Regions from separate parts of the Homo sapiens genome. Here region 2 is reported to be linked to region 1. The links are microRNA targets in miRTarBase. Many come from high-throughput screens and were not tested one by one. Region 1 holds a microRNA gene; the other region holds the end of a gene's coding sequence.
Evidence for each region. The annotated mature microRNA hsa-miR-3614-3p reads UAGCCUUCAGAUCUUGGUGUUUU and lies in region 1 at 3,012-3,034, opposite strand. An mRNA with a match to its seed (bases 2 to 7 or 8) in the 3' UTR can be bound and repressed. Matches are read on the target gene's strand: a 7mer-m8 pairs with bases 2 to 8, a 7mer-A1 pairs with bases 2 to 7 and ends in A, and an 8mer does both.

Region 1 (5,304 bases):
GCATAAGCTCAGGTGTGATCCCATGGCCTCACAAATAACAAAGACACTCCTATTACCCTGGAAATGTCAAGGACTGAAAGTCTCCCTCCCAGGAAGCAGGGACAAAGGCCAGTTCAATTCTTTAGACAACCTCCAATCCACACCTCCTGGAACTCCTACCCCAATTGAAACAAGGATAAAATCCACTGAACATGGAGGGCCCATTGCTGGCCTGAACTATTTTTGTTTCTTTTTTTTTTTTAAAGCTTTTTATTATAGACATTTTCAAACATATACAACAGTAAAATGAATAATATAATGAACCCTCACACCTCCATCCCTAGTAACTGATTATCCGTGTGTGGCTTACTCTTTGATCGATACTCTCCTGCTTTCCCCTAGCCCCCACAGTTAGACTGTCCCGCAGCAAAGCCCAGACAGACATCCTATCGGTCTGAGAATTCCTTATCAAAAGCTTCCCGAAGAGGAACTCTATATAGGGCAGGACTAAGTGTGCTGGCTATAGGTCTGCAGAAATCTCAACCCTTGGGAGCCCTTGGGTGGGGCCTGGGCAGGTCCCTGGGCAGTAGCCGTCTGTAGTGGGCGGCTCATCTGCTGACAACAGTATGACGAACAAATAGCATTTTGTACCCGCACTACAATGCAGGAGAACGCCAAACACCGCTTTATTGCATTCAAACCTTCTAAGGCACGTCAGCCAGCCCTGGCCTTGTCTACAGCCATGATTATCTCCTTAAAGAGTTAACTCTAAAAAAATATTAAGCTCAAGAAATAACAGCTCAAATACTCCTAACTAATTAAAATCAATAGTGAGAGGCAGAATACGGTAAAAGATAACATATTAGTATTATTGATCACAGATCAATTTCAGAGTACTTAAAACAGGAATAATCAGCTACCACATCTTGAAAAATACAAAGACTTGATCCTAACCTTTTATTTATCATGCCACACGGACTGAGACAGTCCCCAGTACCTGGGTCTAGGAGAGTTATTTTATGTTTGTGTTTCTGGGAATTTCCGATACTTCCCAGTGTATCAGAGTGTTCCCCTCACACATGCTAGCAGGCATCTCCCCACTAATGGAATAGCAAGAGTGGTGAACAGAGCGATCCTCTACTTTCTCATCATATTCTGCAAAATGAGAAGTCAGATGGATACAAAGGTTCCTCCAACTCTAGGACTCCAGGGTTGTGTGGCGGCCCTGCAAGGCTAGGTTATGTAAGGTCTCACCATTGCAAACAGAATGGTTCAAGACAGCAAGGATGCACTCCTCAATTTACAACTCCAAAGCACCTTGCACAGAGCTTGGCTTTGGTTACCTACTTGACTCTCTTTTAAACAGAGGGTCTTATGCTTCCCTATCCTGAGCTGCACATTTGCCAGGGAAGTGGCCTCACTGTTGCCCTCATTTCTGCAGAAGAGAGCCAGAGCAGGAGCCATGGATTTATCTCTGGCATTCTACTCCTCCAAGCCCAGCTGTTTCCCAAGTATTAATTGGTTTCAGACAAGGCTTTCGTTTCAGAAAATCAATGAAGATGCTTTTGATCATCTTCAAAAGCAGAGAAGAATCACCAAAGAACTTTTCTTCCAAGTAGTAAAGGAATAAAACTTCTAAGGACCACATATCACCTATTGCAGGGATGTCTTTCCTACAAAGATTATTGCTCTCCCGAGGAACTGAAAATCCTTGTTAGGAGATGACACCGATCAGGTATGTACCTGCATGTCAGGTGTGTAGCTGTCAGGAATATCAAGTGTTCTGAGCCTGCCTAGAGTGCCCTAGAGTTCCAGCACGAGGCCTGAGATGCATTACATTCTCAAATATCCATATGAAAAGGTCTGGGGTCTCTAGTTCCCCAATGGTGACTTCTTTTCATATTATAGGAAGCCTGACAGGAGCTCTCCTCTAAGCAAAGCCCAGAGTTGGACTCATTTCACTATAAGAGGCTAAATTCCTCATACTCACATCCTGACAACATTAGGCTATAAGGAGCTTGGGGAAAATCCAGCCATCCATTCACTCCCGCCCCTTAGTGGACTGGGTTATTTTCACCACACAGAAACACTGCAGGGAAAATAGCCACTTGTGTGACCCTCTTTAGCTCTTTCCCTCCCTCCCTGATCAATGTGAGCTTATATAATTGGCTTAAATGAGGAAGTCAGTAGAAGGGGCTAGGGCCAGCCCCAGGCTCTGACTCACGCAAGGGCCAGTGCTGGGTCTGCAGCCTGTGGCCAGGGATGAACAGGAATGTTCCTGTTCCCCATGAGGTTTGCTAAAAGACCCCTTTGGTGGTAGGTTGACACCCCAGCAAGTGGCCTAGCATGGTCCGAGGCAGCCGCATAGCCTGTCTGCATGATAGCAGGCTTCAGGGATCCAGCTTAGCTGGAGGCTTGACTGTGCTAGCCTCGGTGGTACCTGCACTGTCATTCCATATGTCACAATCCAGGGAAGAGAGGCTATCACCGAGAAGAGTTGTCAGTAAGAAGGCAGGACACTCTAACACGAGCAAACCCACCAGGCTTCTGTTGATCCAGGGCAGCATCCCCCTCGCCTGGCAGAGTTCCTTGCCCCACAGCCAAGGCTATGGGAAGCAAGGCCTCCAGCAAAGCTCATGGCTGCCACCAAAGCATCTCTGCCAAGATGCTTCTTATGATACTTAGGAAGGATTTCCACCCAAACTGGATCAGGGTCACCATGACCCTGAATCACAAATCCAACACAGGCTGATTCCAATCATGGTTTGAAGCTTTAGCTGAAAAGTTTGCTGTTTGAAAACCATCAATGTGGGGGCGATGGGTGTGCAGGGTAGGAAGGGAACGCACTATTTTCCAGTGGAGGAAGAGGGTATGCCTCTTTAGGAAACTGTTCTGGGTAGAGACTGCTGTGGGTGTTTCCTCAAGCACAGATAATAACCAGGAGATCAAGCCCCAACATGCGGGTAATGGAGTTTATGTAACATTGAAACTCAATGACTTTGGAACTTTAAAAACATCTATAGTAAGAATTCAAAACACCAAGATCTGAAGGCTACCCCAGAGAGCAAAGGGGCAGCCTTCAGATCCAAGTGGCCCAAGACAGAACCTACAGTAGCTATGGATTTTCTCTAAGAGGAATCGGGCACTCATGACTTCACTTCCCAGAGCTCTGCCCAGCTGCCCAGCAGCCTGGAGATTTCCAGAACAATGGGGAGTAGGTCACCCTGCCCTGATAGGCACCAGGGGGTGGAAACGCCTCCTCGCCCACAACACAATCACTCTCACCCCTTTCCTGGCTAAATCCCACCTCCCACCCTCCCGCCAGCTCCCCTCCCATGCTCCCAATCCTTGGGACCTCTTGGGGAATTATCCAAGGAGAGTTCTGCCTGCTGTATTTTCACTAGGGTCTTGGGACTTCTGCAGGCAGTCAGCCCAAGTGCCTACAGCCTGCCTACTTGGGGGAGCAGATGGAGAGTGTGGCACCAGCAGAAAATACCCAGAAAGCCGGGTACAAAGCCTCAGTAAAGTCCACCCTGAACTTATACATCAGGTGGACCTTGTCGGCAACAGCGAAGAAGATGACAAAGCCGTGGTCACAGTTGAGAAGCACGCCCACCCGCGTGGCCTTGGTGGAGGGCAGGGTTTTCTCCACGTTATTGTGCCAGGCAGAGATCTTGGTGTTGAACCACTCCACGCACCAGGAGGCGCTGTTGCGGCCGAGCCTGCTTTCTGGGCCCTGCCGGTTCATGCTTCCGTAGCAGATGCCTACCCCACAGAAGTTGTTCTTCTGCAGCTCCACCTCCCAGTAGTGGATCCCCTTCTTGTAGCAGTGCAGGCCCAGCACCTGAGAGCAGTATGTGAACCTCTGGGGATGCGGCCGGTAGTTCTGAGGCATCTCAGCCACAGAAGCTACTGTATAGCACTCTGACAGAGCCACTTTGTTGTGGGCGGTGTTGTAGTCCAGGATGACTTTAATGTAATCTGAGAAAACATCACCCCAAGGAATTAATTACAAGGGGCCCAAAGTGCTCTTTTAGACCTTTGCCAAAGTGGTACTATTTATTCACTAGTTTTATCCATCCATGCACCCATCTACCCATTGGTCCATCCATCCACTCATCTATCCATCTGTCTGTCTATTCATCCATCTATCTGTCTATCCATGTATCCATCAATCCATCCATGTATCCATCCATCCATCTATCCATCTACCCATGTATCCATATACCCATCTATCTACCTATCTATCCATTCTTCCATTCATCCATCTATCCACTTATCTATCCATCCTTCTGCCTTTCCATTTATCCATTCATTCATTCATTAATCTATCCACTTATCTATCCATCTGTCCATTTATCCATCCACCCATCTATCCACCCATCCATTATTCATCAGCTCATCTATCCATCCATTCATCCATCCATTCTGTCCAGCCAGCCAGCCATCTATCATCTATCAGTCATCCGTATGTCTGTCCATTCATCCATCCAAAACCATTTACCAGGCACCTGACTGACACCAGATTCTGGCACAAGATGCACAACCATGAACCAGAGAGACAAGGTGCCGGGCCTCATGGAGTTCACACTCCAACAAGCAAGGCAAGTCCATCAGTAACAACACCATGAGACTCACACTCTGCCAAAAGGGTAAGCACACACTGTAGGGACACAGAGACAAGGCAACTGATGCTACAGTTGGGGAACATTTCACTGGCAGGCTGGAATTGGAGCCAAGTAACAGAAGATGAGAACTAGACAGAGGAGAACAGAGAGAGAAAAGCTGTTCCAGACAGAGGGAACAGTGAGAGTGAAGCCACGGAGTGCCAAGGGGATTCGCATGTGCTGGGATCGGGGAAGCTGGGTGGCTGGGAACACAGATGCAGCAGGAGAAGGGAAACATGTTGGGGCTAGAAAGGGAAGGGCTTAGGAGGCTAGACTTTAACTGGTGGGCAGCAGGGAGCCAAGCGAGGCACTCATTTGCTAGGTGGCTCAGGGCATGACACTTTTCACTGGAGCCCGAGTTTCCCCCAAGGCAAAATGAATAAGCTGGGGGTGGAAAAGGCCCTAAGTTGATAGAATTTTACTTTCCCTGTTTATGCGGCTGCCACAGAGTGCACAGCAGCTCCTGAAAGACGTGGCTCAGCACCGCCGCTAGCAGCTTGGGCAAGAGTTAGCTGCAGCCCAGGGCTGGTCTGGGCCTCTCTTGGGGGGCAGGGACAGCGGAGGGCTACAAGAAGGCCAGCCCTGAAAAAGCAAGGGACCCACAGATCCCCACCAAGCCTGCTGCAGCTGCTTATGATAAAGGAAGGGCTATATTTTT
Region 2 (5,374 bases), not on the chromosome of region 1:
GCAGAGGGTGCATTTGAATGTCATTTTCTGCTCGCCAGTGGCCGGGACTTAGAAAGACTCTCCAACTGTTAGACAACACCAAATCAAAAGCATCTCTGAGTTTTCTTCCCCTGTAATTTTCTTTCCTTCTTTTTTTCTCTTTTTTTTGAGACAGTGTCTTATTCTGTTGCCCAGGGTGGAGTGCGGTGGTGCAATGTTGGCTCACTGCAGTCTCAAGCTCCCCGGGCTCAGATGATCCTCCCACCTCAGCCTCCTGAACAGCTGGGACTATAGGCATGTACCACCATGCCTGGCTAGTTTTTGTATTTTTTGTAGAGACAGGGTTTTGCTGTGTTGCCCAAGCTGGTCTCAAACTCCTGGGTTCAATTCTTCTGCCCGCCTTGGCCTCCCAGAGTGCTGGGATTAAGGCATGAGCCACTGCATCTGGTGGCCCCCATAGTTTTCTTCTCCTGGGTGTTAAAAGTAGCATTTCACTGTCAGGAAGCTACAGAAGAGAGAGCGAGGAAAATCAAGCTGCGGCGCTGTGTGCTCTTAGCCATGGTACCTTCCCTTACAGTCCATGGAGAAAGAGGGCCAATGCCAGGAGGCTGTGGGTTTGTGACGGGAGATGACTTTCCCTTTGATAGTTGTGACGCCTGTTTCTGGACCCCATGCACCTTCCGGAATATTCCTGCCTGCTCACTGCCGTCTTCCCCTTTCCTTGCAGATGTGTACTTCATCGCCACCTTGTCATTCTTGTGGAAAGTCTCCGTCATCACTCTGGTCAGCTGCCTCCCCCTCTATGTCCTCAAGTACCTGCGAAGACGGTTCTCTCCCCCCAGCTACTCAAAGCTCACATCATAGGCCGTGCGTTCGCTGGAGGGGGCCCTGGTCTTGGCGCTTCCCTGATGGACAGAGCTCAAGTTCCATTTATATTAACCGCCACCTGTGGATTTTGCAGTAATTGCTAACACATGCAGTTTTAATGGGAAGTGGCTCTGCGCCTAAACGGAGTCCTAACGCTGCATCAACGGGAGGGAGGGTCCTGAAAGAGACCCATCTGGGCCTGTCTGAACCCCTCGTTCTTCATGTTTAGGTGAATATGAATATGTTAAAGCTGGTGGCTCAGCTGGGAGATTTATATGGGTCACTGTGCGAGCTTCCTTATGACTTGAATTTTGTTGTCACATGATAAAAGTTTCTGTGTAGCTGAAGGTTGTAGAAGGCTTGTGTGTGTGTGTGTGTGTGTGTGTGTGTGTGTGTGTGTTTTTAAAGAGTCCTAATGTGTATGTACTCTTTATGTCTTTCTTGCTCTTACAAAGAGGTGTCAGAAAAATAGAAAGCTCTTGGTGTCGGTTTGGGAGGAAAAGACAGTGACATTTGGTAAAAAGTTATCCACACAATAATCTCCATTCGGAAATGCTCAGTATCGTCTCCAGCCAGCCCTGCTTATCCAGGTTACACTGGATTCCTGGGATCGTAACCAGTAAATGAGAGGAGAGGGAGAGAGAGTGTCCTAAGTCCAATCTGTTATCCTTGATCTGATTCAGCATCCATAGTGTGTGAGTTAACTTCACCTGCCACCTCGTAAAAGAATTTCAGAGGTGTGATCCCGCTTTATTGGGACCTGGTAACAATCACAAAGCCAGTGGCTGTTTGAGAAGGACCTCAGACATTTTCAGCAGAGTTGTTTTAGCAGGAAACGTGCCACTGAATGGCCCCTAAATGTGTCGACAGTGTGATAAGAGACTCAACTAATTCTTTAGGCAACATGGCAGATGTGACTCAGATCCTCCAAGACCAAAGCGGAAAGGTCAGGGGGCTGGGACTCTTCTCTTCCATAGAAGCCTGTTTCCTGTTAGGAGGCATAATGGAAGATGACCCCACAAAGGCAGAGGCATCTTTCGGAACAACACTGGTGGCAGCTTTCAGAACAAGGAACCCCTGGTGGGAGGACGCCCAAGCTACAGCGTTGGGATCTGGGATCTGTTCCACTGCCGGCAGATTTCAAGGGGAACTTGCTGAAAGGCAGCCAGTGGTGAAGATTTCTCCCCTCCCAGGATGGACTACATGCCGGCATGTTTCTTATAAAGCTGTGGCTGCTTGTTTCAGAGGAAGGGAGTTTGCAGTCGCGGGACGTGGTAGAGCAAGGCATTCTTGGGTTTTCAAGTTGCTTCTTGCAGAAGCCACATATGCATGCCATAAGGGTTAAGTTGGTGGATCTTTAAGAGCCAAGTGTGGTTGAGATCTTGGATTTGCGTTTACTTCTTGATGAATACATATCCTTCAAACCCTCTGCCTGGCGCTACTTCTGTGTGCTTCAGAGATGTACATCACAGCCTGGTTTCTGATGCCTACTAACTCCTGCTCTTGGAGAGCTGGAGACACGAGGATCAGATAGTCCCTTGCCTTTGGAGCACTCTTGATAAGCTTTTGTATTTTGTGTTGTCCTTTTAAAATGTTCTAGAATGACTTTACGTTGCAGGTACTGGTTAATTGGCTGTTGACACCACATCTATTTTGTCTTATGATTCTGCAGTTTTGCAGTACTTTTCTCTATCTGATTCAGCCATTTCTGCCAGAGGGAAAAGGTCGGCAGAAAAGATGTATTGAGTGAATAGTTAAGGATAGGATCTTTGTCCAAAAATTTCAGAAAGATTGAGCAAATCTGACGTATTCATTGAGTGAGTTTCTGTGTTTTCAAAGGTGGAGGAGAAATTTGTGCTGGAAGTTTTTAAGCCTCCGTTTTCTTGGAAATCAGTCTGTAACACTGGCAAGTCTTAAGATAGTCCCATTTAGACTTTGCAGATGCTGAACCTGGCTCTGTAACGCTGGGAAGTCTTAAGATAGTCCTGTTTAGACTTTGCAAACCCTGTACCTGGCTTTGCTCGGAGATTCGGGATGCTGGCTCCTGCAGGCAGGGCGTGTGGGAGCCTCGTCAGAAAGTTTTAGAGGTTTCCAGCAGAAGCAGAATGAAGATGGTCTCCCTGGCCTTTTCCTTAATTCTCAATTTTGATTGAGGTGCACAAGTTGACTTTTAAAGCCAACGCTTAAGATACTGATTGACATCTTCAAGGGAGAATGCTCCCAGGAGGGGCTGAAGAAGCCATAGTTGGAAGTGGAAGGTACTCGTCAGTGTTCTCCACAAACCTTTTTACTCTGTTGTCTCAGCCGCACTGGGGCGGAGGCGGTCAAGGGTGAGAAGTACCGACACTCAAGTGCAAACTGCCACGTCGTTGGCCCATCCCATCAGTGGGCAGCTGGCTGACGCCATTCACTGGACGGTCCCTGAACACCTAGGAATGCACACACCGTGCTTCTCAGACACTGGAGACGCAAAGGCAGGAGGATGCAGTCCGGTGAGAGGACACGATCTTTACCTGCACAATCAGACTGTAAGCCCAGCAGAGAACCCCAGGGGCGCCTGGGTACTTCTCGGAGGTCATCTTAGTTGTGGTGGGGAAGACAAAGAAATAAGCAAACAAGAAACTAGAGTTACTATACAAGAAACTCTCCTGAGTTTGTAAACCTTAAGCATAAGGATTCAGTTGACCTTTTTCTTGGTTCATCAATCTGGAAAGAACTTACATAAAGCGCCATTGACACTGTCACCTGGGAGCTCCATGGGCCGTAAGTCTTTGACAGCCAATTTAATTTGAGGTCAGAGGGCCTTGAGGTACACAGTCAGCACTGTTTGAACACTTTTCCTGAAAGCAAAACTCACAGCTCCCTGCGCCCTCTGACAACACTAGCTATTTCTGCCAGAGTAAGAACTTCTATTACTATTTTATTATTGTTCATATGTCTTTTGATGATGGTTGTGTGACAGGGGGAAGCAGGATCTATTTGGTTTCTTCCCCTCCCCCCACCCCTTCCTTTTTGTCTCTCTTTTTTTTTCTCTAAGAAAATCACCAGACTAGTTTTTCCATCTTGAGTAATTTCTTATGTGGGACAGTTTTGATCCTCATTTTGAAAGCATGCGTGTGCACATGTGTGTTGCCTGTGGTGCCAGGTGAGACAGGTGGCACTAACTCCAGCTGCTTGGAAGGCATCCCAAGGGCGCATCTTAAAGTTGGAGCAGACCTCCCTTTTCCAGCCCCTGGGGCCATTAGACCACGTGCTGGAACTAGCATTGTAAAATTCCCATCCCAGTTCCACTCCCCTGAAGTGAAACCCTTTTTTTTTTGTGACAGTAAATCTTAAAAATCATTGTCTCTTTATGAACATTTCCTCAGTTTCTTCTCTGCTGAAAATGTAAGCCATGCTACTTTTTAATGTATTTTGAATTTTGTGCTCATTGGAAATTGATATGCTAATGCCTCCCCCACCCCCCGCCAGACTTTTCTTTTTATACTTTGTCTTGTTTTTACTGGGGTAGGCTGGGCATGCGTGCGTGCCTTTAGGGCAGCATTTTAAACCTTTGCCAAAATTGCAAATGGGACATGTACATTCTTCTGCTCCATCCTACTTAAACACCTATCAGCTATTTTTATCTTTAACCTTTTCTGTATGTTTGAAGTGTGTGGGGGGTGTGTGTGTGTGTGAAAGAGCGAGAGAATGATGTCATCTAAAGTTTTTTGAAGAATTATTTGGTTTTCATTGCATTAAAATTCTATCACTCCCAGCTTTGTTTTCATTTAAAAAAATATACAAAGAGCTTTGTAAATACAACACATTTTATTTCTCCCCCTTCTTTTAATGTACAGCTTTTTTGCCACTTATATATACTTAAAATATTCCCATGAATTATGTCCAGTTCTTCTTGGAAAAAAATTTGGTTTTGAATGAACCTGCAAAGCATCCTGCAGCGTGAGCAGCTCCTCCACCTGGAGCTCCGAAGCATCTTCTCAGGCCAAAGCGGCATTACCCGTGAATCTGTCTTCTCCGCCACAGCATGGTTTGAGGCGCAGTCTGTTAATATAGCTGGGCCATGTCAGTGACTGTTGTGTTTGTGGGGTCAGGTGGGGGGCATGGTATTTGCAAAAAAAACAAATTATGGCTAATTTATTATTTTGTTGCAGTGGGGTTAACTGTAAACTCATGTAAGAGTCTGTGATTTCCTCATTGGTTGATCTCTCTCTCTGTAATCCTCATTGCAAATTTTCACCAGGACAGCGTTTTTTGATTAGAGGGGAGCTCTGGCACAGTATGCTTTAATTTAGCAGGAACTTCCAGATGATTTAAATTCTCGATGCTGTGATGACACACATATGATCTTTCGTGTTTCTGAGCGACTCTACTTTCATTGTTTGCCAGCGTGGCTCGTTGCTGTTGCCCAATAAAGCTTGTGTACGTTCTGCCTTGGGGGATTATTTTAATTTGTACAGAAACATGAATTCTGGTATCAAAATGAGGACTTTTTATTATAACGCTCCTATTTTTTCTTTATTTCATG

Region 2: the mRNA of ATP9A is a reported target of hsa-miR-3614-3p. Seed matches in the 3' UTR shown: 7mer-m8 at 1,201-1,207.

What each region holds. Positions count from the first base shown.
Region 1 is chr17:56,888,270-56,893,573 of GRCh38, forward strand. It overlaps MIR3614 (microRNA 3614), which reads right to left and starts at 3,086; the gene lies at 3,001-3,086. It overlaps TRIM25 (tripartite motif containing 25), which reads right to left. Exons shown (of 9, transcript NM_005082.5): 9 at 1-3,960. The coding sequence ends at 3,431.
Region 2 is chr20:51,596,680-51,602,053 of GRCh38, reverse strand. It overlaps ATP9A (ATPase phospholipid transporting 9A (putative)), which reads left to right. Exons shown (of 28, transcript NM_006045.3): 28 at 707-5,374. The coding sequence ends at 843. Among named protein-coding and RNA genes, the nearest start is that of NFATC2, 57 kb to the right of the region's middle.